Linked DNA regions of Homo sapiens. The protein of the gene in region 1 purifies or fractionates together with the protein of each later gene. This does not show direct contact. Each region holds a gene or a part of one and is shown in the gene's direction. Other genes may lie near its edges. The genes, in order: EPB41L5, UBE2O, NAP1L1 and VANGL1.

Region 1 (2,583 bases):
TGCTGAATTGGCCCCGACAGATTAAATGCGTGTTGGGGATTGGTTTCCTGTCATAGCTGCTGCTGCTGCCATGCGCAGAGCTGCTGTAACAGCTCTTCCTGTTCTGCTCCCCTGAGAACAGTGTGGTGGGGAGAGGCAGGGCTGAGGTGGTCTACGAATGTGGCAGGTAGGGAAGGGGAGATGTCTGTCTCTTGAGAAGAGAGAGGCATGTGTGCCGGCATCCTTGATGGGTTCAAAGAGAAAGGTTGGAGATGATAGTGGGTGAGAAGCAGGCTGGTGAGACTGGGCTGAGGTTGGAGAAGGGGCAGCCGGGGGCACTGCTGAGGGTTTGCCGTGCACGCCTCGGACGGAGCACGGTGGGGTGGCGGGGAGCAGATAGTGCTGCCTCCCTGCGGGCAGACAGGAGAGGAACCTCAACTCAGTCCATTTCATAGCCCTGATAGGGGAAGTGGGAGTTGACAGGATGGTTTAAAATAAGACGTGAAGGTTTCAGTTACCTGCTCTAGACTTTGCCTGAGAACTTGTAAATTAATCAGTGAGACCTAATTTGTGACATGTCAGTAGCATCATCTTTTGACACACAGGAGGTCATGGTCATTTCATTCCTACTCTTCAGGAGACACTGCTGAACAGAGGAATGATTCTGTTCCTTGTGTGCTTACTTCCTTAACATTTATACATTGTTTTAAGAAAAAACTTTTAAAAATATTTCTTATAGTCTCCTAACATTTGTCTCTAGCCTTTGCCTTTGTACAATCACAGATATCCTATGGAGATTTAAGGATGAAAGCCCTGAGTTGTTCTTGGGTTCTTGGATCTGGACTACTTGTTATCTTATGCTTCTCACTTCTGGCTAAAACTTGCACCTCTTCTTCTCTTAGCTAAGCCCCAAAATGAAGATTTCCTTCAGAAGTCTTGTTAGCAGAATTATTTATCAGTCACAGAGAGAAAAATCTGCTATTTTTCTAAGTAAGAGTCTCGAGAAGCAGAGTTTTTGTCTTGTCATTGAGAGGAGTCAGCAGTCTTGTTCTGTAAAGGACCAGAGATGGTAAATACTGTCCCACTCAGCTCTGCTGGCGCAGTACAGCAGCAGCAGCCCCAGCACAGCTGTGTTCCTGCGGAGTCCCCTTTACAAAGCCGCTGACCCCTGATGTGAAACTTTGTAGAGCAGCAGAGTGGCTGCGTGAAACGGGAGGCTGGCAGGTCCTCAGATAGGTTCTGCAGTGTTACCTGTCACTTGGAGGCAGCCAACACTTCTGGACATTGCATCCTTATTCACACATGTGGCAGCTGAACGAGGTGCTGTTGTGGGTGTCTCAGCTCTGAGGGTCTTTGTGAGCTCCCACTGTTGTGGGTGTCTCAGCTCTGAGGGTCTTTGTGAGCTCCCACTGTTGTGGGTGTCTCAGCTCTGAGGGTCTTTGTGAGTTCCCACCAACTTTTAATTATTCATGCCCTTGACCATGTGGTTGCTTGGAGACCTGGGGTCTTCTGCAGACTGAAGAAGACACATTTCTAGATTATTTGTCCTTTTTATCCTCTCAAAAATTTAAACACTGTACCTCTTCAGTGGTCAGAAGAAAGTTGGAAACTTTTCCTACATATTAGGCGTTAGTATGAGGACATTTGTTTGAATTATAGAAATTTGCCCTGAGCTGAACTGGGTTGTGTTAACACATTGGTAGAGCTATGATTCCTTCCCAGTTCTAAGAGATACGATCTGTAAGTCCCTATGTCACCACATTGCTTGAGATGATCATTCAGTTACTTGTCAGGATTTCTCCTCTTCAGAGAGATTTTTTTTTATAGCACAGATTCCTTTGCCCCTTTTATCTCCTTATCTGGATATGATAAGTGGTTATGAGGGTCTCACTAACTATTTTGTGTTTACCTTTTATATGTGTAAAACTTTGCAGTAGCATTTAAAGTGTAATTTATTTTTCTATCAAGTGCACTATTCATTTAGTGTGTTCCAGTTTTATATGACTTGTATTAGAAACACTGCACTGAGTTGTTTGTACACTGAAATGAGAACTCTAGATGTAACTCTATTCAAATAAACCTTCGTGAGACATTCATGTTTTTGTGCACTGTTTCTGTTTCTTGGAACTGTGATTCCTACATGCTGACCTCAACAGAGTTAGACCAGATCCACTGTTGGTACAAACCTGAGGAAGTGAGCAGAAGCAGCCGCACTGTTTTTAGGTTGATTTCCATGTTTTTGTGGTGTAAATTTGGGAGTAGGGGCATTTTCAAAGGTTGAAAACCTCATTGGTCATCCCCAGCATATCCTGGAAGGCACGGTGGTCATTCCAAGGACAGCATGGTGCAGTATCACCACAGCTTTGGACATCGGATCTGGGCTCTACTGCTTAATACCTCAGGTTTTTTGTCTGAAATGGCACATGAAGTGTGTGTCACAGCGTGTGGTAGAGTATGCAGGTGTTGACTTCTCCTTCTCTTGGCGCCCACCAGTCCCCAGCCTTCTCTGGGTTTGCACTGCACCATCCAGCGAGGAACAGTGCCACCTGGGTTGGTTTCAGGACTTCTGCTGGGCAGAGTCATACTGCACCATATGGGTGTTGG
Region 2 (7,040 bases), on another chromosome or scaffold:
TGGAAGTAACTGTTCAGTGGAGTGGCTCACAGATGGGAGGGTATGGGCTTATTTGGAGAAAGCCAGTGCCCAGTATGGGTGGGGTATAGGAAGTTAGGAAGGAAAGTCACAAGAGCCTCCCAAGTCATCCTAAGTCCTTCCACATGCCGTTGTCTTGGGTTCTAATTCCCAGTGGAAGGGAGTGTAGCCACCATGTTACCATCCCCCAGCCCCTTGTCGCTCCCACTCTGCTCCCAGCACCATCAGGTCTTTGGAGAAATGTAACTCCTTGTCATAGAAAGGTCAGAAGAGCCCCTGGAGGCAGCATCCTGGTGAGGTGGAGCTGCTGTTGTCTGGAGACCCCACGGGAAGAATGGCATTTGCTGCCAGCCTCCCTCTCCTGGGAGCACTGGGCACTGCCTGCCCTGCCAGCCTCTGGCCTTGCCATGATGCCAGCTTTCACCAGCTGTTTTTTTCTGCTTCAGCCTCAGAGTTGACACCTCGGTTTCCCCTGCACTCCCAAGGGTGCTGTTAGGCTGAACAGGGTGTTTCATCAGTGACGGCACTGATTTAGGTCTGTGTCTGCGTTCTTCTCTCCTCCTTTCCTGGCTGCTCTCTCAGGGACCCCCAAGTGGTGGAGGCAGCCCTCCTGCCACACATGGTGCAGCCCCCCTTGCATTGGATTCTCCTGTCCTGCCGCTTCTGGCTTCTCTGGGAGCAATTGTGGCTTTTTGAAGTCTAAAATGGGAGCAGGGGATTAAGATAGGGTGGGGCAGCACAAAAAAATGCCGTATCTCAGAGTGGAGATTTGGGCACAGAGGGTTACAGGCACAGAATATTCTTTGATTTAGAAAAGTGGCACCGTCACGCCAGCATGCCTCTCCAGCCTCCTGGGGTCTTGGAGCAGAGATAAGGAGAGCCTGACCTTTCAGGGGTCTTCACCCTGCAGCTCACAGGGCCAGTGATCACAGCTGCCGACCTTGCTGAGCACCTACTCTGTACCGTGCACCATGTGCCACCTGCGGTCCGCTGCCTTGGTGACTCCACCTCAGCCATGCTGAGACAGCTGCCATCATCTCTCCTTCCACATGTCGGCAGGAGTGGTTTGCCTGACGTTCCTGTGTCTGACTCAAGAACCCTGCGTTTAAGGACTGGGCAAGTTGTCATTTGAAACAGGCTCATACCTGGATGCAGTGGCTCACGCCTGTAATCCCAGCACTTTGGGAGGCTGAGGTGGGCAGATCACGAGGTCAGGAGTTCGAGACCAGCCTGGCCAACATGGTGAAGCCCCATCTCTACTAAAAATACAAAAATTAGCCGGGCGTGGTGGCACGTGCCTGCAGTCCCACCTACTCGGGAGGCTGAGACGGGAGAATTGCTTGAACCTGGGAGGCGAAGGTTGCAGCGAGCCGAGACTGCGCCATTGCACTCCAGTTTGGGCAACACAGCGAGACTCCATCTCAAAAAAAAAAAAAAAAAAAAAAAAACAACTTGGGCTCATGAGTTCCCATGGGACTCTCTGCACTGCTGGTTGGTGGTGGGGTTCATTGCTTTTCTTTCCTTTTTTTTTTTGTGAGTCACGTTCTTCTACTAGCAGAGTTTGTTTTAGTTGTCATTGCCAGCATTTAAGTGACCTTGAGCCAGTATCTTCCTTTTTCGGCGACTCAGTTCTCCTTTCTTGGTGGTGACCTCTCAGTGCCCCCAGGTCAAGAGAGGCCACCACGGAGGAGTGTCTGGTTGGCTATTTGAGGAAACAGCTCTCCAGCCATGTGGTTTGGGGTCTCGGAGGTGGACACACACAGAGACCCATCCATGATTATGACCCAGTGAAGAACCATAGAGGAGCTGCCCCAGGTTTGAGGAACCAGCTAAAAAAGACGCAGGCTGGCCTGGTGGGAGCATCACGTGCCTGGGCTTTTGGGCGATGGAGCAGCAGGAGGCAGTGGCCGCTGCCAGCTGTGCGTAAAGAGACAATCAGGTGCTCGTGCAGTTGGCCGGGCTCCAAGAGCCAACCATCCTGAGGGTTACTTAGCAGCCTGCAGGGCTCCAAGCGCAGCAGATAAGGTGCAGGCCGCAGCTGGTCAGGAGGATAACCCAGATTAGAACATGGTGTCCGGTGATAGCCAGGCTTCAGGGTGACCCACCGCAGCCCAGTGTCCTGCTTCTCCCCCAGCCCACTCTCCCTCAGCACTGATCAGCTAGGGCAGGCACTTGCAGAGGGCAGAAAAAAGATTGAACGCAAAGCAAATGTTTTGCTCTCTGTAGAATGGGCTGTTAAATCCTTCATTAAAGTGCAGCCTTATGTGATCTGTCATTGAGCTGCACTGTTCAGTGTGAGGAAGGCTACCTCCGGCAAGCCAAGTGCCTCTGGTGGGTGAGACAGTGACCACAGGGGCCCCAGGAGGCCTGTGGGCGTGACGCGCTCTGCCTGTGGGTCTGGGTGCTGGTCGGAGGTGTGTGCGGTCTGTGAAGATACTGCTAGCCAAACGCTTAGGATTTGTGCACTTAGCAGTGTGGATGTGACGCTTTCCTTCAGAAGCTGGAAGAAAACTGTATTCTGTGGTGGCTTCAGAGTCCATTCTCTCACACCTGTATTTTCTTTTACAGCTGAAACTAGAGGACCGTTCTGTGGTGCCCCGAGATGTGGTCCGGCACATGCGATCCACCGTGAGTCCTGCGTCCCCACCCCAGCCCCGGGCCTGGGGGCAGCCACCTTAGGGACTTGAGCCTGCCCACCTCGCACTCTGCATGTGGGAGAACTGGCCAGCTCTGCAGGGGGTGCGCTGGGGTTGCCTGGGCTGGGTCTCCCCTGGTGACCAGGGCTGCTGCACCACGGGACTTGCATGTCTCCTCCCTCCCCCAGGACAGTCAGTGTGGCACGGTGATCGACGTCAACATCGACTGTGCCGTCAAGCTCATCGGCACCAACTGCATCATCTATCCCGTCAACAGCAAGGACCTGCAGCACATCTGGGTGAGCCGGCCCTGTCTTCTCATCATCCTTTCTGGGCCCTCTGGTTCTCTCGGCGGCACGACCTCTGGGCTACAGCCTCCTCCGTGCTCTTGCCAAGCACAGCCTTCCTGGGTCAGAAGGCGGAGCACAGCAGCCAGCTGGCTCCTGTAGCCTTGTTTTCGCTGCTTTCAAGTAAGCCATTTAGACATGAGGTCAGGACGTGCCCTTCCCCAACCCCAGCATAGGCTGCCAGTGTGGTTATCTTTAAGTGTTTTTCCTTTCTCCTCTAACATTTCTTTAAAAAAATAAATTATTGGAAATAGTTTATTTTTTTAATGATTTCAAACTTACCAAAAGTTGTAAATTCCTGTGTCCCTCCATCCAGGTTCCTCAGCTGTTAAGATTTCACTTCGTTTGCTCCATCACCTTCCCTCCCTCCTTTTCCCCGAGATCCCCCTCCGGTCTTTTTTCTTCCCAAAACATTTGACAGCAAGCTATAGATGTGATGCCCTGTCACCCACCCCGGAATACACACACCTCTTGTGTGTTTTCCAAAAATGAGGACAGCCTCCTGTGCAACCACCATATAACCCCCAGATTGGGAAATCAACGTTGATAATTACTGTCCAGTCCACAGACCACATGCAGTTGTCCCAACACTACTCTTTTCTTCTTTGCGGATCCAGGACCCAATTCAGGAACACATCTTGCATTGAGTTGTCATCTCTTCATTTTCTCTCCAATCTGGAATCGCTTCCCAGCCTTTCTTTGTCTTCCATGCCCTGAACAGTGATACATTCAGTAATTTGACCCTCAGCCTGGGTCTTCCTGGTGTTGCCTCATGCCCACGTGTTCTTGGCAGGCCCGCCGCAGAGCTCTGCCCTGGTTCATGGTACCCCATAGCCAAAGTGCTGGGGTTGTTCACTTTTACCCCTGGTCATGTTGGTGTCCACCAGGTCTCTCCACCATAAACTCACCATTTACCCCCTTTAAGTGATTGTATTTTGTGGGAACGTAGTCCCAGATTATGTCTATAACCTGTCATTTGTCAAACTGAAATCCACCAGCTTTGGCCTCCATTCACAGTTCCCCCTGCGCCAGCCATTGCTCTGATGTTGCTAAATGGTGGTTCTATGACTCCCTTGTTCCCCTCATTTCTTTTAGCTGGCATTCTGCTCTGTAGAAGAGCTTTATCTTCTGCCCTATTTATGTATTCTTTTTTTTTATCAGTATGGACTTAGAGATTTCTGTTTTATTCATTGGTTATAATTAATTACTACTATTATCTGTTCTGTTGCTTGGATGGTCCCAGATTTAGCCAGTGGGAACCCCTTCAAGCTGGCTTTCATGTCCTTCTCACATGGCCCTTTTTGTTGGTTTTTTAAGAACTTTCTTTCTTTCTGGCATGAGATGTGCCAGGCTCATCTTGTACTTTTTGTGATCCAGCCCCAGAATCAACCATTTCTCCAAGAAGCCTCATTGTTTTCAGAGAATGGTATTTTTAAAACCCAAGATCTGGATGCTAGGTGTGCTAATTGCTACTTGGCTCTTTTGGGACACACTAGGAAATACATATGTATTATATGTATACACACATCTAAATATGTCACTACCTGCTCTATGTGTATATTAAAATATATGAGTTCAGGCAGAGTTCACGGGCGCAGTGGCTCACCCCTGTAATCCCAACACTTTGAGAGGCTGAGGCAGATGGATCACTTGAGCTCAAGAGTTTAAGACCAGCTTGGGCAACATGGCGAAACCCCATCTCAACCAAAATATATGAAAAAATTGGCCAGGCACGGTGATGCATGCCTGTAGTCCCAGCTACTCAGAAGACTGAGGTGGGAGAGTCGCTTGAGCCCAAAGATGGAGGTTGCATTAAGCCAAGATCACACCATTGCACTCCAGCCTGGGCAATAGAGCAAGACCCTGTCTCTAAAAAAAATAATAATAAAGTAAAATAAAATATATGAGTTCATCCTGATAGATCCACTTCCACCTAAACACCTCAGACTCCTCTTCCTTCTTCTCCTTCCTGCTCCCTTTCTGTTAGTAAACACCTGGGCACCTTCTCCAACAATGAGGGACTTGGCTCTCGATATCCTTGATGTGTTAACGTATTTACTCAGAGCACTGTCCATGTAGCCACCCCCCAGTGGTGTGGCTGCCTCCTCTGCCTGCCACCTCCACAGCCTACTTTGCCAGGTGTCCTGTGTCCATGGATGTCCCATGTCCATGGATGCCATCAGGCCTCTCTGCCCCTGCATCACCCACCCCGTTCCCTCCAGGCAGCCCCACCACCACCACCACTTCCTCCTCACTGGGAAGAGCAGCTGGGATGCAGCCTAGAACTTGTAGGGAGGGCCTGCTGCAGCAGCTGTTTAGGGCTAGTAGCCAACCGGTCCAGTCAGTGAGCTGTCTAGATCCTCCCCCATCCTGTCTTCGGTGGGGCATAGAGGAATCTGTGCCCTGGACATGAACGTTGTCTGCTGTGTCTCACTGCCCCTGCCTCCTTGGTCTGCAGCCCTTCATGTATGGGGACTACATTGCCTATGACTGCTGGCTGGGGAAGGTCTACGACTTGAAGAACCAGATCATCCTGAAGCTATCCAACGGCGCCAGGTAGAGTCTCACCACCAGAGAGCCATCGGCTTGGGAAGGATAGCCTCTTGGAAAGAGGGGAGGAGGAGGGTGTTTCCTCCTGGGGACAGTGATGACAGGTTTGATCAAGGGCAGTGACAGATGTTGCAGGCATCCAGGGCCTAACCCTGTACCGTTCTCCTTATCTGCCGTGGCCTATTTCTGTTGCTCAGTTTCTGATCTGTCCTGGCATGGGGAGAAACGTTTTCACTGAGGATATCTGCTAGAGGCTGATGCTTTACTTGAGGCACTGTGATGGTGCTGAGCAAGCACTCCAGTGGCACTTGGGGTCTTGTTCGTTGTGGGAGAGTTTCTTGTACTACCTCGGGCTGAGTTGATGGTAGAAGACGAATTGTGCTATTTAGGGCATGTGGGCGCATTGGCATCTCAGAATCGCAACTTTTTGGTACTCACTGTGTCCCCTGGTGGAGACCAAACCTCTGTTCTCTGTTTTAGGTGCTCCATGAACACGGAAGATGGCGCCAAGCTCTACGACGTCTGCCCGCACGTCAGCGACTCGGTAGTGTGCTCCATCCAGGCCAGCACCCTTCTCTGATTGCTCAGTCCTCTGGAAGGAGGACTTCGTAGCAAAGACCTGGACCCAGCTAAACAGAGCGGTTTCCTAGAAAAGGGGCGGGTGCGCGCCAGAGGGTCTAAAAGTTTGGGTATAGGCAGAAAGTATTAGAACTTTTTTTTTTTTTTTTTTTTTTGAGACAGAGTCTCACTGTCGCCCAGGCTGGAGTGCAACGGTGCGATCTCGGCTCACTGCAACCTCCACCTCCCGGGTTCAAGTGATTCTTTGGCCTCAGCCTCCCGAGTAGCTGGGATTACAGGCGTGTGCCACCACACCCGTCTAATTTTTGTATTTTTAGTGGAGATGAGGTTTCACCATGTTGGCCAGGCTGGTCTCGAACTCTTGACCTCGGGTGATCTGCCCACAGCCTCCCAAAGTGCTGGGATTACAGGCGTGAGCCACCGCGCCCGGCAGTATTAGAACTTTTATTTGCATTTTTGGTAGCTTTTTTTTCTCATCCTTTAAGGTTCCACTTTGTCTCTCTCAGTACAGGATGATGTGTTAGTTACAATAGTACATGGACACACACAGCAAACAAGTAGATATACAGGGGGTGCGTGAGCAAACAGGTTTCAGGACCACTGCTCTCTGGAGTCTTATTCCTCAGAGTATGAGCCCTTGACCAAGGAGCATGGAATGCATCACCTATGTTTGAACAAGGGCGCCAGATGACCTCTGCGGACCCAGGGTTTGGGAAGTGCTGATGTGGAGCCACAGGACTTGTTTTAGGGCGTGTGGGGCGTGTGTGTGAGTGGGCTTCTGCAGGTGGGCAGCCAGCGGGCACAGGCGTGGAGAGCATGGTCACCCATGGAGACACCGCTCACGGGGACTTTCCTTTGGCCCCACATCCCGCAGGGTCTCTTCTTCGATGATTCCTATGGCTTCTACCCA
Region 3 (7,040 bases), on another chromosome or scaffold:
AATGGCTTCTATACCTTTGGTTACCAACTCTGCCTTTTACTTCCTGCATATTTGTATATATTTTTACTTATTCAGAAGTTTTGTACATTTTAATTTTTATTGGGAAACAGGGTTATATATATTTTTTCCTTGTGGAGACAGGCTCTTGCTGTGTTGCCCTGGCTGGTCTTAAATGCCTCACCTCAAGCGATTTTGCCTTGGCCTCCCAAAGTGCTGAGTGTATGGGTGTGAGCCACCACACCTGTCTAGAGTTATAATTTCAGTCTTGGAATTATTTTCTAAAGAGGGTACAGAAGAGCATAACAGGGATAAATAATGTAATAGGCAACACTGATTGATTATTCAGGCATTGTTTTAAATTCTGTGTGTATTATTAGCTCATTTAATTTACTTAGAGACAGGTAGCATCAACATTTTAACAAGGAAAAAAAATAGGTGTGGAGTGGTTAGATAACCCGTCCGTGGTTACGTACGTGAGCAGTGATAACTTATGATGAGATAATTTTTATCCTGGTTTTGAAAGAATGTTGACTTACACTGTTCTGCTATAAATCAGCATGAATATTAGTTCATTTTCTGTTGCTTAGAATACCTGAAACTGAGTAATTTATTTAAAAAAAAAGAATTTATTTCTTGCAGTTATAGAGGCTGAGAAATCCAAGATCGAGGGGACCCATGTGGTGAGAACCTTACTTGTGGAGACTCTGAAGGTTCCCAAGGCAGTACAGGGTATCACATGGGGAGGGGGCTGAGTGTGCTAACTGGGTAGCTTGGCTCTCCAGCTCCCCTGGTGGGAAACTGGGTAATTTATAAAGAAATACATTAATCCATGAATGGATTAATTCGTTTGTGAGGGTGGAGCCCTCATGATCCAATCACTTCTTAAAGACCCCCATCTCTCAGTGCTGCCACATAGGGGATTAAATTTCAACTTGAGTTTTAGAGGGGACAAATACTCAAACCATAGCAGCATGAAATTCAAAAGCACTCCACCTTGTATCCCACTGTGCTCTAGGGAAAAGCTGTATAGCAGTTATGGTCATGAAGTCTTCTTCCAGCATAGAATTTGTTTACATACACAGTCATGCATGGTTAATGATGGGGATGTGTTCTGGGGGAAATGCATCATTAAGCCATTTCATCCTTTTGTGAATGTCATAGAATGTATTTACACAAACCTAGATGGTACGGCCTAGTACATACCTGGGTTATATGGTATAGCCTGTTTGTTGTTCCTAGGCTACAAACCTGTATAGCATGTTGCTATGTTGAATACTGTAGGCAGTTTTAACTTTTTTAAAAATAAGTTGGAGTGTACTCTAACCACAAAAAGCATAGTATAGTAAATACATAAACCAATAAATCATTTATTGTCCTTATCAAGTATTATGTACTGTAAATAATTGTAAGTGCCATACTTTTATATGACTCTGCAGTAGGTTTGTTTATACCAGCATCACCACAAACATGAATAATGAATTGAGCTGTGACATTACTAGGCAATAGGAATGTTTCAGCTCCATTATAATCTTGTGGGATCACTGTTGTATATGCAGTCCTGTGTTGACTGAAACGTTATGTGACTGCAGTTGGGTAATGGTTTCTTAGCCTTATGTCAGCTCTATGTATCCAATTAGTTCAGTCAGTTGCCTCCCCTCTTCAGTGGAAGATTTTGTTTTTAGTTCAGTTTAGGAAGGAAGATTTCCTTTCAGGAGGCCAGGTGTGGTGGCTCACACCTGTAATCAATCACAGCACTTTGTGAGGCCAAGGCGGGAGCCCAGAATTTCCAGACCAGTCTAGGCGACATAGTGAGACACCCTGTCTTTACAAAAAAAATTAAAACAATATAGCTGAGTGTGGTGGAGAATGCATACCTGTAGTCCCAGCTACTCAGGAGGCTGAGGTGAGAGGATCACTTGAGCCTGTGAGGTCAAGGCTGCAGTGAGCTGTGATCACGCCACTGCACTATAGCCTGGGCAATAGAGCAAAGCCTTGTCTCCAAAAAAAAAAAAAAAATGCCTTCAAGCATGTTTTTAGGGTCAGTTATGTCTTTTGAGATCTTATACACACCATATATGTATGAACCTTTTATTATAAAGTGACCTTTTTATCTTAATGTTTTTCCTTGAAGTCTATTTTTTCCTGACATTAATACGTGATACCAACTCTGATTAGTGTTTTATTCTGAAACTGTCTTTTACATTACAGATTTTTTTTTAAGGAGGTATGTTGAAGTGCAGTGGCACGATCATAGCTCACTGTAACCTCAAACTCCTGGGTTCAAGTGATCTTCCTGCCTCAGTCTCCCGAGTAGCTAGGACTACAGCAGGCATGTTAATTTTTTGTAGAGATGATCTGTGTTGCCCAGGCTGGCCTTGAACTCCTGGCCTCAAGCGATCCTCCTGCCCCAGCCTTCCAAAGTGCTGAGACTATAGACGTGAGCTACCGCACATGGCCTCACCTTCATTCTTAAAAGATGTTTTGGTTGGGGATAGTATTTTAAGAGCCTTAGTTATTTTCAACATATTGAGGATTCTGTTGTCTTTTAGTGTCTTATTGAAGAGAAGACAGCTGTCAGTCTTTTTGTGCCTTTGAAGTTAATCTACCTTTTTTGTGTGTGCTTTTGAGATGAATTTGTTTTTGCTATCTTGCCTTTTTACTGATGTATCCGGAGCTGGATAAATATATGTGTGTGTGTGTGTGTGTATATATATATATGGATTCTTTATTTTATGGTTTTGATTTGTAGGGCTACTTGAATCTGTGGATTGGTGTCTTTCATCACTTAAGGAAATGGAAAATTATTGCGTATTAACTTCTTCAAATATTCTGTCCTCCTGCTCCCAGAACTTGTATGAAGTCTTTATTAGGCTTCATTGGATCTTAACATGTCTTTTCATTTCAGTATTTTCAGTCCTTTAGATTCTGTGGCTCTGCCATATTTTCAAAGTTTTCTTCTAGGCTTCATTTCAGCTCACTTAATTCTCTCTTCAGCTGTGTATCTTACTCTTAAGCCAGCCCATTTAGTTTGATTCATTAGTTTTATTTCTAGAAGTTCTAGTTTTCCAAATTTTGTTATATCACCTTTAATAGATGACTTCCTTGCAGACAGTGTGTTTTCAAACTTAGATCAAAGACAACCAGGCTTACTATGTCTGTAGGTATGTATTTGTTTATAGTCTGACAATTTTTAAGTCTTTGTGTAGGATTGATTTCTGTTATATTTTCTGTTTTTCCTGTTGGCTGTGAAAATTACTTGTATGAATTTTTTAAGGTCTAGAAGGAAGCTTTCATTTAATTTTGATATACAGGTGTCTGAATATACCAGGGACAGATCATTTTAAGTACATAGCTTGGGGTTTGGAGGGCAATACAGATGAGGTAAATTTGGGCTGTTTGTCCAGGAGAATGAATTTATTCTTGAGGATATAGCATTTTGGGGTTCCTGCTTAATTTGGGAGGGTTACCATAAAGATAGCCACCGTGGACAGGCCCAGAATTTTAACTTTGGTTAAAACCAAAGTTCACGTTGCTGATAATTGGCAGTTGACCTCAGTGCAAAAGTGCCTTCCTTCTGCTCCTGTTTTGCCCTCAGTTTTGGGCTGGTGATTCCTTACTATCTTGTTAGCATTTCAGTGCTTTTAAGATTTTTAACAAAATGTTTTTGTTAAAAAACATCTGTACTTTTAATTCTTTTCCTTTTTTTTTTTTTTTTTTTTTGAGACAGGGTCTTGCTCTTACCCAAGCTGGAGTGCAGCGGTGTGATCTCGGCTCACTGCAGCCTCCTCCTCTGGGTTCAAGCAATTCTCCTGCCTCAGCCTCCTGAGTAGCTGGGACTACAGGTGTGTGCAACCACGCCCGGCTAATTTTTTGTATTTTAGTAGAGACTGGGTTTCACCATTTTGCCCAGGCTGGTCTCTAACTCCTAAGCTCAGGCAATTCGCCTGCCTTGGACTTTCAAAGTGCTAGGATTACAGGCGTGAGCCACTGCGTCCGGCCATATTTTTCATTGGTAGAATTGATCTGCATAATCTAGTTTGTCGCTTTCAGGAATGAAAGTTTTTCACAGAGATCTTGGAATGCAATTTAATGTATAACAAATAAGATTCTCACTGATTTTATTTAATGTCAACTGCAGTAAAATATTAATACAGGTATTAACCTAAACTTGTGTTTCTCAATGTGGTCTACCTGAGAACCACCTCTCAGAAGCTGAGTTTCTTGTTTAGAATGCAGATTTTTGGGTCCCACTTCCTCAGATGTTTTTCTGCTTTATATAGATGATGAAATAGAGCCAGAAGTTGTTTGTCTTAGTTTGTAGATTGCTACAAAGTTGATGTCAGCCCAAATGATCTGACTACAACTGACTAGAAAATTAGGTCTATCTTACAACCAAGAAATACAATGTAGCCAGAATGGGCAGGTTAGAGCAGCCTTCTCTGGAGGAGTAAATGCCTCCTGTTAATGTTCTGTAAATGTTCTGTCTTGGATCCTCTTTACTAAAGTTTCATTTTAAGAATTTAAACTGTAAATGTAATGCTGCAAATGGACATTGAGGTTAGCAGTGTAGCCATTCTGTGAACACATTAAAATGTTACAAAAATTTAAATTTGGAAGTTTTAGGTTTTGTTTCTGTTTTTGACAATTGCTGGGTTTAGTAGACACTATATATTAAACCTAGCAAATCTCAGAATAAATTTGTGTATTGGAAATTATTATATAAATCTGTGTGTTGGAAAACCAAATGCAGTCATGCACCACATAAATACTTAGCCATTATATTAAAGTTGCCTATGGTATTCAATACAGTCACATGCTGTATAGGTGTGTAGCCTGGGAGCAATAGTCTATATCATAGCCTAGGTGCGTAGTAGGCTATACCATCTAGGTTTGTGTAAGTATACTCTGATGTTTGAACAACAATACAATCACCCAGAGACACATTTCTCAGAACATATAATCCACACATGACTGTAATGGTGAATGGGAAATTAGTTCTCATTACCCCCAGTCCCTTCTTTCTCATTAGGTTACTCTGGTTAGGTTTTTGGTGTTTGTTTTCAGAAAGGGTTTATTTGTATTAAAGTATGTGCGTATATGAGTGGAGATATATATATATATATATATATATATATATATATATATATATATTTCCATATCCAAAGGGGATTTCGGCATACATCCTATACCTTGCTTTAGTGTTCCTTCATATCAACTCAGATCTGTTTCATTTGTGACTGCAAAGCATTCCATTTTTGCATATTCCATTATAGTACTAAGTTTATAATAAGCTTTGTGTGCTACCCCAAAGAAGACAACGCTATGATTGTCAAGATCAGATTTAATTCCTGTAATCATGAATTTTGTCAGTTGGGAGAGACAGACCATAGGTCAAACTAATTTATAATTACAGACTGAGACATCTTATGGTGGAAAGAAAAGAAAGCTTTATAGGAGTGTGTGTACAACCAAGAAATCTTACTTAACCGGAATGTGCAGGTTGGAGAAAGCATCTCTGGGGAGTGAAACTTTGAAATGAGAGCCAAAGGATGTGCAGGACTTGTTCAGAGCTGTGGAAGAACCTTCTAGGTGAACATGGAAAGCAAAGGCATTAGATTCTTTATAATTTTTTCATGGTAGAGCTCATAAGTGAATAAATCTGGAGATGGACATATTTTGTTTTTTTAATTTTTATGTTTTTAAGAGACAGTGTCTCATTGTGTTGCCAAGGCTTGTCTTGAACTCCTGGCCTCAAGCGGTCCTTCTGCTTCGGCCTCCCAAAGTGCTGGGATTGCAGGTGTGAGCCATGGTGCCTGGCTGAGATGGACATGTTTAAGGCTTTTGATATTCCTATTGTCAGGTTGCTCTCCAGAAAAGATACGGGAACACTAGCTGGAAATAAGGATGCATGTGCACTACAGGTTTCCCTGTATTAAAAAGAAGTTATTGATGATGTGGTAGACAAACTGGAATCCTACTTGGATTTCTTTGATGTCAGAGTTCAGTATTTTTCTTATTTTTGATTAATATTCATAATTGCTAAACACTTTGTAAATGCTGACTCATTACCCAGCATCACTAGAAAAATTCATCAGTACTATTAGGAATTATTTATAACAAATACAAAATATTTACAGAGTTAGATACATTAGGAAGAATAATTTTCTTTATAATTACTCTAAAGGATAGATACTAGGTCAGTAATAATGTTTCCCCCAAATATTAGCACTTAACTGCTAAAATCAGGATGTTTTCCATTTTTAACTCTTTGTTCATAGGCATAATACGTTGCTATGAAAGTAAACACATGCAGGATTTTGTGAATTAAATATGTATTAAGATTTTAATTTTTACCAGATAACTTGATTCTATTTATTCATAATTTTTTTAGAGACAGGGTCTTGCTGTATTTCCCAGGCAGGCCTTGAACTCCTGTGCTCAAAAGATCTTCCTGTCTCTTGGGCAGCTGGGATTACAGGCTCTTGGGCAGCTGGGATTACAGGCTCGTGCCACTGTGCCTGGCTAAGATAAACTTGATTTTAACATGGATTCTATCTAAACTTGGTTTAGTTTTTTTTGGTAATCTGTAGATTACCTGTGGCATTCTACCATTTTTTTCTGCCTGGATATAACACATCTGCTTTAAGATTTGTTTTTCCAAAAGCAGTATTCTCCAGGTTCATACTAATCTTTTAGTGAGAAGGAACTTAGGATATCCTCTGGTGAGTCTTAACAGTAAACTTACTCAGGTCTGGTAACCACAAGTCTTGACAATGTCCCTAGCATATCTAGGGGAAGCTGGAGGTTGGTGGTTGTCAGTTATCTAACATGAGGTACATGTACATTTGGAGAGATAGGGAAGGCTTACCTAACATTAAGATTGGGACCTAGAGCTTTTGAAATAGTCTAAATGGCTATTTGATCCAGGGATTAAGTCTTTTAAAAAGATATCCAGAGGGCATAGTGAGTACAGTAGGCATCAGATTTTGGTTTTCTTAAACATGAATTACATAAAATGAATATTGCTAAATACGAAATGG
Region 4 (7,040 bases), on another chromosome or scaffold:
AATCATTGGGTTTGTCACAAATGCCATAAGCCCAGCAGATCCTCACATCAGTGACCTGCATGATGTTTGGTGGTTTATAGGCCACAAGTTCAAAATGTTTTATAGATTTGCCCTGCATCTCTGCCCGCTCCTTTCCAGCCCATGCCCCTCCAAATAAACCCACTAAAACACACACGGTTTCCTCTGGTCTCTCTGACATTTGCTTCCAACCTGGGGATGGTAAATAGAGGCCTGTAAGAAACAGAATAGAAATCACTTGTTACTCAGCTATAGCTAATAGTAGCAGTTAAAGGTGGTAGCAGAGACCAGAAAAATGTGTATAAGTTCAGTGAAAATGATACAGAAGTTATATGCCATACAACCCCTTCAGTTCTTCCTAACTGAAGGAATTTTACTCTAGTGAATACTAGTAGTAGTTGACAGCTGTGAGTGCCTACCACGTGCTAGGCACTGTTCTAATAATTTTTATGAATTATCTCATTTAATACCTACCACAGATCTATAATATAAGTAAAATAAAATCTGTTGTTACAGTTAGGGAAACTGAGGCAGAGAGCAGTTAAGTAACTTGTTCTGAGGTCACACAGCTAAGTACTAGAGCCAGGATTTGAATGCTCTTCACCCACAATTTGGGCTCATTGCTACTCTCTAGAAGAATAGTTGACTCTAAACAAAATTATTTCAATTGTCACTTTCCCCTTGAGTGCCATTTAATTAAGAATGGGTACCCCTAAGAAGAATGTTAGCTTCAAGACATAATATAAATAATAATTAATAGCATAATCTCTGCAGAATTCTATGTAAAAATCAAATATTCAGAATAATATACACAGCATATATAAGCATGGTTGTACCAGACACCACTTTTCCTTGGAAATAGATCTACTTACTGCATAGGAAGCAAAATCTCTCTTTAAATTCAGTGCGTGTCTCTGTAACCCTTACAAAGTAACTTTCCAAACCAGAGCTCCCTTAATTACTTAATAGCTCTAGGCAGAGCTGTTGATGTTTTTATAATTTCCTTTTTGCGAAGGTTAGCTTATGTTTACCACTGTCATTATCATAACATATTATTTCCTTCATACGATTTGCTAAACACTGTGTTTTCATATTAAGTAGTAGGATTTTTATATGAGTGAACATGACTTTAGGAGAGAATTCTGTTTGAGGCTGATTATCTTCATTTTGCTTTTGATAAAGGGTGGTGAAGGAGGTTCTTTCTGACATTTTTGCCTAGGAAGTCCAGAATTTAGGACACTGCCACTTAGAAGCACTCTGTGCACCTATCTCCCATTGTTGACCTTGCCTGCATGCAATGTGGTTCAATGAGCCTGGCCGTGTCCTAATATTTGCCTCCAGCCCCTACCCAAGCAGTGCCAAGCAATACACTCTTAAGGGGTGGGTGACCGGTGAGGCAAGATGCTCTTGGGCAGTGGCTGAAAGAGGCTGCTGCTGATTTTTACTCAGTGTGTCTGGCATACGAACTCTGCCCCTGAGTGGGACTGCCATGCGAGCCAGTAGTATAGCTTTTTTTTTTTTTTTTTTGATAGTTCTGGTATCACGCCTCTATCTAATATCTGCATCTTTTTTTTTGCCACCTCTAAAACTAAGGATTTAAAATAGATAATTTCTAAAGTTTCTTCCACAATGAATCTATGGCCTCATGTCCTAAGATCTGCCACAAAACCCTTCATTCAGCAGACATTTATAGGGTACCCATAATGTCCTAGGAGCTGGAAAGACAGGCAGTCATGAAAGTGCCTCTGCCCTCATGGAGCTTACAGCCTGTGAAGAAACTAGACAATAAGTGATCACACAAACAAATGTATCACTGGAAGTTGGATAGAAAGGAAGAGTACAGGGTACTAGAGAAGAGCCTGACTGAGATTGAAGGATCAGGAAAGGCCTCTTGAAAGGAGCAGTATTTAAATTAAGGAGTGATGAGTAGGAATTTGGCAAAACAGGGCATGTAAAGGGTGAGTACCAACAGATATACTGGGCTCTGCCAAAGCCCTAAGACTCTACCTTAAAGGAGCTGGGGCTAGAGAAGGAGGAGGGAGCTAGAGCGTCGGGCAGGACATTGCATACCAAATGAAAGATTTTTGTATTTTATTTAAAGTGCAGTGGGACACCACGGAAAGGTTTTAAACAGGGAAGTGACGTCTGCATTGTAATTTAAAAGGTCACTCTGGCTGCTGCCCAGCCTGGGCCAAACACAATATGAGTCATGTCAGGGGTCAGTATGATAGACAGTTCCAGGTTCTAGGAGCCATATTCCCACCTTTATATGACTGTCCTATTCATGCTGCTGTGACAGCCTATCAGTGTATTACCCTGGGAACCTGATTCCTTTTCATTGCTTTATTGTCTTTTCTGATAAGGGATTCCTTCTGACCTTATCATGAGTTTGGTTAATTTCTTGTGTATGCAAGGGAACTATCTCATAGATATATCATTGCAGTGGTAAGCTTCAGGATATCCTTTTCCATTAAGTCTGTTGAAGTTCTTACCTTGGCTCAGACTCTTTTAAAATAAGTTCACTTCGGATTTTATTAGTTTGCCTCTTATTGCATCCTCTTAGTCCTCACTCAGATCTTGGATAGGATAAGAGTTGGTAACTATTAGAAACGGTATGACTTAGAAGGGGCCTGAGCTGTGTATAGGCTGGTGAGGACACCTGGAGGCTTTGTAGTGGTCTAGCCCTGTGTAGGTGGAGCCTGGAGGAAGTGGGTGGCTGTGAATCAGTAGAGTGAAGGGAGGATCAGAGAGGGTGTTGAAGGTGGCACAGGGTTAGATCCTTAGGATGAGGGTATTGCTTTAGCTGAGGAATTGGGAAGAACAGGACAGGATACTGGAGAGCACCTATGAGAGGGATGATGGTATTCCCAAGGGGAGCAAGAGGAATCTCAGTAGGAAATGTGCACTTGGGATTTAGTCTTTCAGTAAGTATTTGTTGGGTACCTGCTATGTTCAAAATATCCTGGGTGGAGGTAAGACGTAGTTGCTGTGTTCAAGGAGCTTCTGCCATAGGAAATCTGTGGATGGAGAAGACTGAGAAGAGTTTTGAATGTCAAGGGATAACGTGATGAGGGGAGAGGAGAGGGAGTGTTAGAGGAGAAGTAGTAACATAAGCGGCATCAAATTGGAGGCTAGCCAGCTGCAGAGAAACTCTGCTAGGGCAGGCAGCATGCCTTTGTCATTGCTGTGCCCTAGCATTGCCTAGCATGGTCTTGTAGGTGCCACTTAATATGGAGGTGGATGGACTAATAAATGAAATAAAAAGCACTGGGGGAGGAGGACAAGGATGTTACTTGGCTCATAGCAATCCTTGGCCAACTTTGAGTTGTTTCAGTGGAGTGTTGTGGATGGAGATTTGGACTGAAAGTGGAGAAGGAGGGAGTGACAGCATGTATAGACCACTCCTTTGGTAAGTACAGGAAGGAACCATGGGAGGGAAACCAGACTAGGGTGGTTGGTAGAGTTAGATAAAGCCTTTCCCTGGAGGGCAGTTGGGACCCATGGTTTCCTTTGAGGGACAAGCCTGGAGTTGTCTTAATGAATGGCCACAAGTTTTCAATGAGGACAAGGAATGAAGTCCTCTGGCAGAGGGGGAAGGGAATAAAACTTGGGTTACCATGTGCCAGAGACTTTACCTTTGCAGTTTCATTTAATCCTCACAAGAACCCTGGGAAGAGAGAGTATTAAATGACCTCATTTTTATGGGGCAGGGTTGGATAAGCTCAGAGAGGCAAACATTTGCCCCCTGATGTCACAGCTAGGAAGCACCAAGCTGGATCTGCCCACATCTGCGGGGCCTGGGCCACCTGCCTCTGAGACACTCCAGCAGCATTTAGCAAAAAGTAGCTGGAAGTTGGGATGGAATGGGGAATCCAGAGTTATGGGTTGCAAGGCAGAGTGTAGGAGTTGTGAAGGGTTAATTATGAATCTAGAAGAGAGTGGGAAATCGGTGTTCTGGGCCAGGGAACTGGACATTTGAATCTGCAGATCAGCAGAGGCTGGGTGAGGGGCTTTCAGGGAGGATCTCAGTTCACTCAGGGCTGGAGATCTTCGAAGCACATCCTAATGTTGACGTCTGCCTGTTATGAAGCAGGTGAGAAAACAGCAAAGCCCAGGGCAGAAAGGAAGTGAGACTGAGGTGTTGAAAGCTGATTGAAATTGCTAGTGAAAATGGTGGAGACAGTAGGCAGAAAAAAAGATGACTCAGCCCTTGAAGTCTTCTAGGAAAGTAGGGTAAGTCCAGGAGCAAAACTTAGCATTTAAAAAAGGCCTGCTGTGTTTTCACATTTAATCTTTACAGCTACCTCCCCCCACAAACCCCCACCATAATAGGCTGCCTTGCTTCCTTTTTATGGATTGGGAAGTCTCTGAGGCTCCAAGGAGAAACTGCTTTGCCCAGGTGTACAGCTAGTTAGTAGGCAGCGGACTGAGATGTGTGCTCCGTTCTGTCTGACTGCAGGTGAGCCTTGTGGCAGGAAGGCCGGCACAGAGACTCTGCTCTGCTTCTTTCCAAGCATTTCTCTCATTAAAAAGACAGAGGAACAAGCATTTCGGAACCCGCAAAGAGAGTGCTGATAGACAGTGACTTTCGTTTACCTAGCACATCTGGAGCTCGCGCTGGGTGCCTTCATAGTTGTTAGCTCATTTGGTCTTCACGGCAACCCTGATATTTGCATTTTACAGTTACATGTTCAAAGAGGTTTACTAATTTTGACTGGGGCCTGATAGCTAATAAGTGAGTAAAACCCGAGATTGGAACCCACCTTTGGAAACTGTGTCTGCTTATATTTTCAGATCTACCTGTGAGGTCGGTGGCTGGTTGGTTTACCCTGTTTAACAGATGAGGAAACTGAGGCATAAGAAAGCAAGTGGCTTATCCCAGGTTGTACTAAACAGTGGCTGGGCTCAGACTAGAACTCAGGTTTCCCCAGGGCTAGCCTTGGGCTCCTGATGGCAGAGGAGAAGTGAAATGGTAAGTCAGGGCATCAGGGACAAAGGAGGCTGGCCCTGGGTGGCAGACCTTGGAAGTGATCGTACCTGACTCCCAGGAAGAATGAATGGTAAGGGTAAATACACCCTAACTGGGATTAGAGGCTGTGGGGGCTGTATTGGTGGTGTATGGCAATTTGTGCTGACCTGATTCCCTCCAGACTTATGTGTTGTTGCTGGGGTCAGGGAAACTTGGCCTCCTCCCAGGAGGGTTAGGGTATGGCATTTACAGCTCCTTTGTTTTTTCTTCACACTTATCTCACTGGCTGTGTTTGCAGTTTCAGCTTCCAGCGGCTGGAAGAAGGAACCCTGTTGAGCTGAGACTAGCTCTGGGGTGAGGGGTGCAGAAAGAGACAGAACTTGTGGATCTCGGTTTTCTAGAAGTAAAAATTTTAGCATGTGGGAGCTCAGGAATGTACTTGGAAATGTTTCCAATTTATTTTTATTGCAAAGCAATATCTAATGAAAATGTGGGAGAAGACCCAGGAGCCTGCAAATAATAAATTGCCTGCTTTCATTTTCTGTGTCTCCTTTTAAAAATCTTTGTCCTTACATAAGCAATTTTATACAATTGTAACTGTAATGTTGGTTCACTGTGTATCAACAATACTGTATCCTGCTTTTAAAATTCATCATTATAAGAGTTTCTATTCTTTATAATGATCATTTTAAACATATGTGATACTTTTCTGGTGGATGAACCATGTTTTCCTTACCTATTCCTGTATTCTGGGGGCATTCAGATTGTTTCTAGCATTTTATTATTTATAGACAATGAGACCACAATAATTTTTCTTTAAAAAAGAAATCAGTTCCCTCAGATAAATTCCCAGAAATTCGGATCCTAGATCAAAAAGATTGAAGATCTTTTTTTTTTTTAATTGACTTTTGGAAATTATGACCAAATCCCTTAAAAGCAACTTCGCTGGGTATTGTTTTTTTAACCAGCAAACTGGCAGTGGGGGGCTGGGCATTGTGTGGAGGGTCGCAGATGTGGAAAGCCACCTCCTAAAGCCAGTGAGCAGGGGTCAGGTCATCCTGAGGACGTGGACAAGTGCCTCCCATTTTCCTGCTGCTGTGGTAGGGGTTCAGCTTGCTCAGCGCCTATCCTGTCTCCCTCCCAGACACCTGGGAAAACTGGTTGCTGCATGGGTGGAGCATTTACAGTTCAGTTGCTTCACCCTCACTCGCTTGTTCCATGATAGAGACCCCAGAGAGGAGGTGTGGCTTTGTCATTTATCTTTCAGCCCCATTAAGGTTGGCTCTGAAGATTAATGTCTTTTTTTTTCCCCCTCTTTCCCAGAATTTGTTCCTGTTGAAGAGTGGCTCCTCTTCTAATTTCCAGACTCCTTGAGGTTTTAGGAGTCTGGTAGGTGAAATTTTCTACCTCTAAGGAGAAACAGTACCTGCTCCTTCCTCAAGCGCAAGCCCTCCATTGCTATGGATACCGAATCCACTTATTCTGGATATTCTTACTATTCAAGTCATTCGAAAAAATCTCACAGACAAGGGTATGTAAGTTGTTCATTATTACACTTTTCCTTTTGGGGAAACCTACAGGTTGGTGGGGTTCTCTACACTCACTTTTCAGTGACTCAGCGCTGGACATTTGGTCGGTTGGTGCATGAGAAGCTGAGCTTTAAGAGCATTTAACATTCTTGGGAGTAACTACGTCACCAGTTTACATTTTATAGCCACCATTAGAGTTGATGACTTTAGTTTCTCACAATTGGTTTTAAATTAAAGTTTCTTCCTGCAGTGGAAATGTTTTTCATTTCTAGGTATTTCTTTTTTTTTTTTTGAGACGGAGTCTCGTTCTGTCACCCAGGCTGGAATGCAGTGGTGCCATCTCGGCTCACTGCAAGCTCCGCCTTGTGGGTTCACGCCACTCTCCTGCCTCAGCCTCCCGAGTAGCTGAGACTACAGGCGCCCACCACCACGCCTGGCTAATTTTTGTATTTTTAGTAGAGACGGGGTTTCACCTTGTTGGCCAGGATGGTCTCGATCTGACCTTGTGATCCGCCCGCCTCGGT

What was found.
Region 2: the proteins of EPB41L5 (region 1) and UBE2O purify together in Homo sapiens (affinity purification with mass spectrometry; 4 studies listed by BioGRID and IntAct, with this or other methods). This does not show direct contact.
Region 3: the proteins of EPB41L5 (region 1) and NAP1L1 purify together in Homo sapiens (affinity purification with mass spectrometry; 3 studies listed by BioGRID and IntAct, with this or other methods). This does not show direct contact.
Region 4: the proteins of EPB41L5 (region 1) and VANGL1 purify together in Homo sapiens (co-immunoprecipitation; 3 studies listed by BioGRID and IntAct, with this or other methods). This does not show direct contact.

Annotation. Positions count from the first base shown.
Region 1 is NC_000002.12:120,177,045-120,179,627, forward strand, and holds the end of EPB41L5 (band 4.1-like protein 5), read left to right. Parts: 3' UTR 1-2,075; downstream 2,076-2,583. UniProt on the Homo sapiens protein: Plays a role in the formation and organization of tight junctions during the establishment of polarity in epithelial cells.
Region 2 is NC_000017.11:76,401,119-76,408,158, reverse strand, and holds part of UBE2O ((E3-independent) E2 ubiquitin-conjugating enzyme), read left to right. Parts: intron 1-2,586; coding exon 2,587-2,646; intron 2,647-2,842; coding exon 2,843-2,953; intron 2,954-5,459; coding exon 5,460-5,557; intron 5,558-6,031; coding exon 6,032-6,095; intron 6,096-7,004; coding exon 7,005-7,040. UniProt on the Homo sapiens protein: E2/E3 hybrid ubiquitin-protein ligase that displays both E2 and E3 ligase activities and mediates monoubiquitination of target proteins. Negatively regulates TRAF6-mediated NF-kappa-B activation independently of its E2 activity.
Region 3 is NC_000012.12:76,074,661-76,081,700, reverse strand, and holds part of NAP1L1 (nucleosome assembly protein 1-like 1), read left to right. Parts: intron 1-7,040. UniProt on the Homo sapiens protein: Histone chaperone that plays a role in the nuclear import of H2A-H2B and nucleosome assembly.
Region 4 is NC_000001.11:115,644,967-115,652,006, forward strand, and holds part of VANGL1 (vang-like protein 1), read left to right. Parts: intron 1-6,310; 5' UTR 6,311-6,447; coding exon 6,448-6,518; intron 6,519-7,040.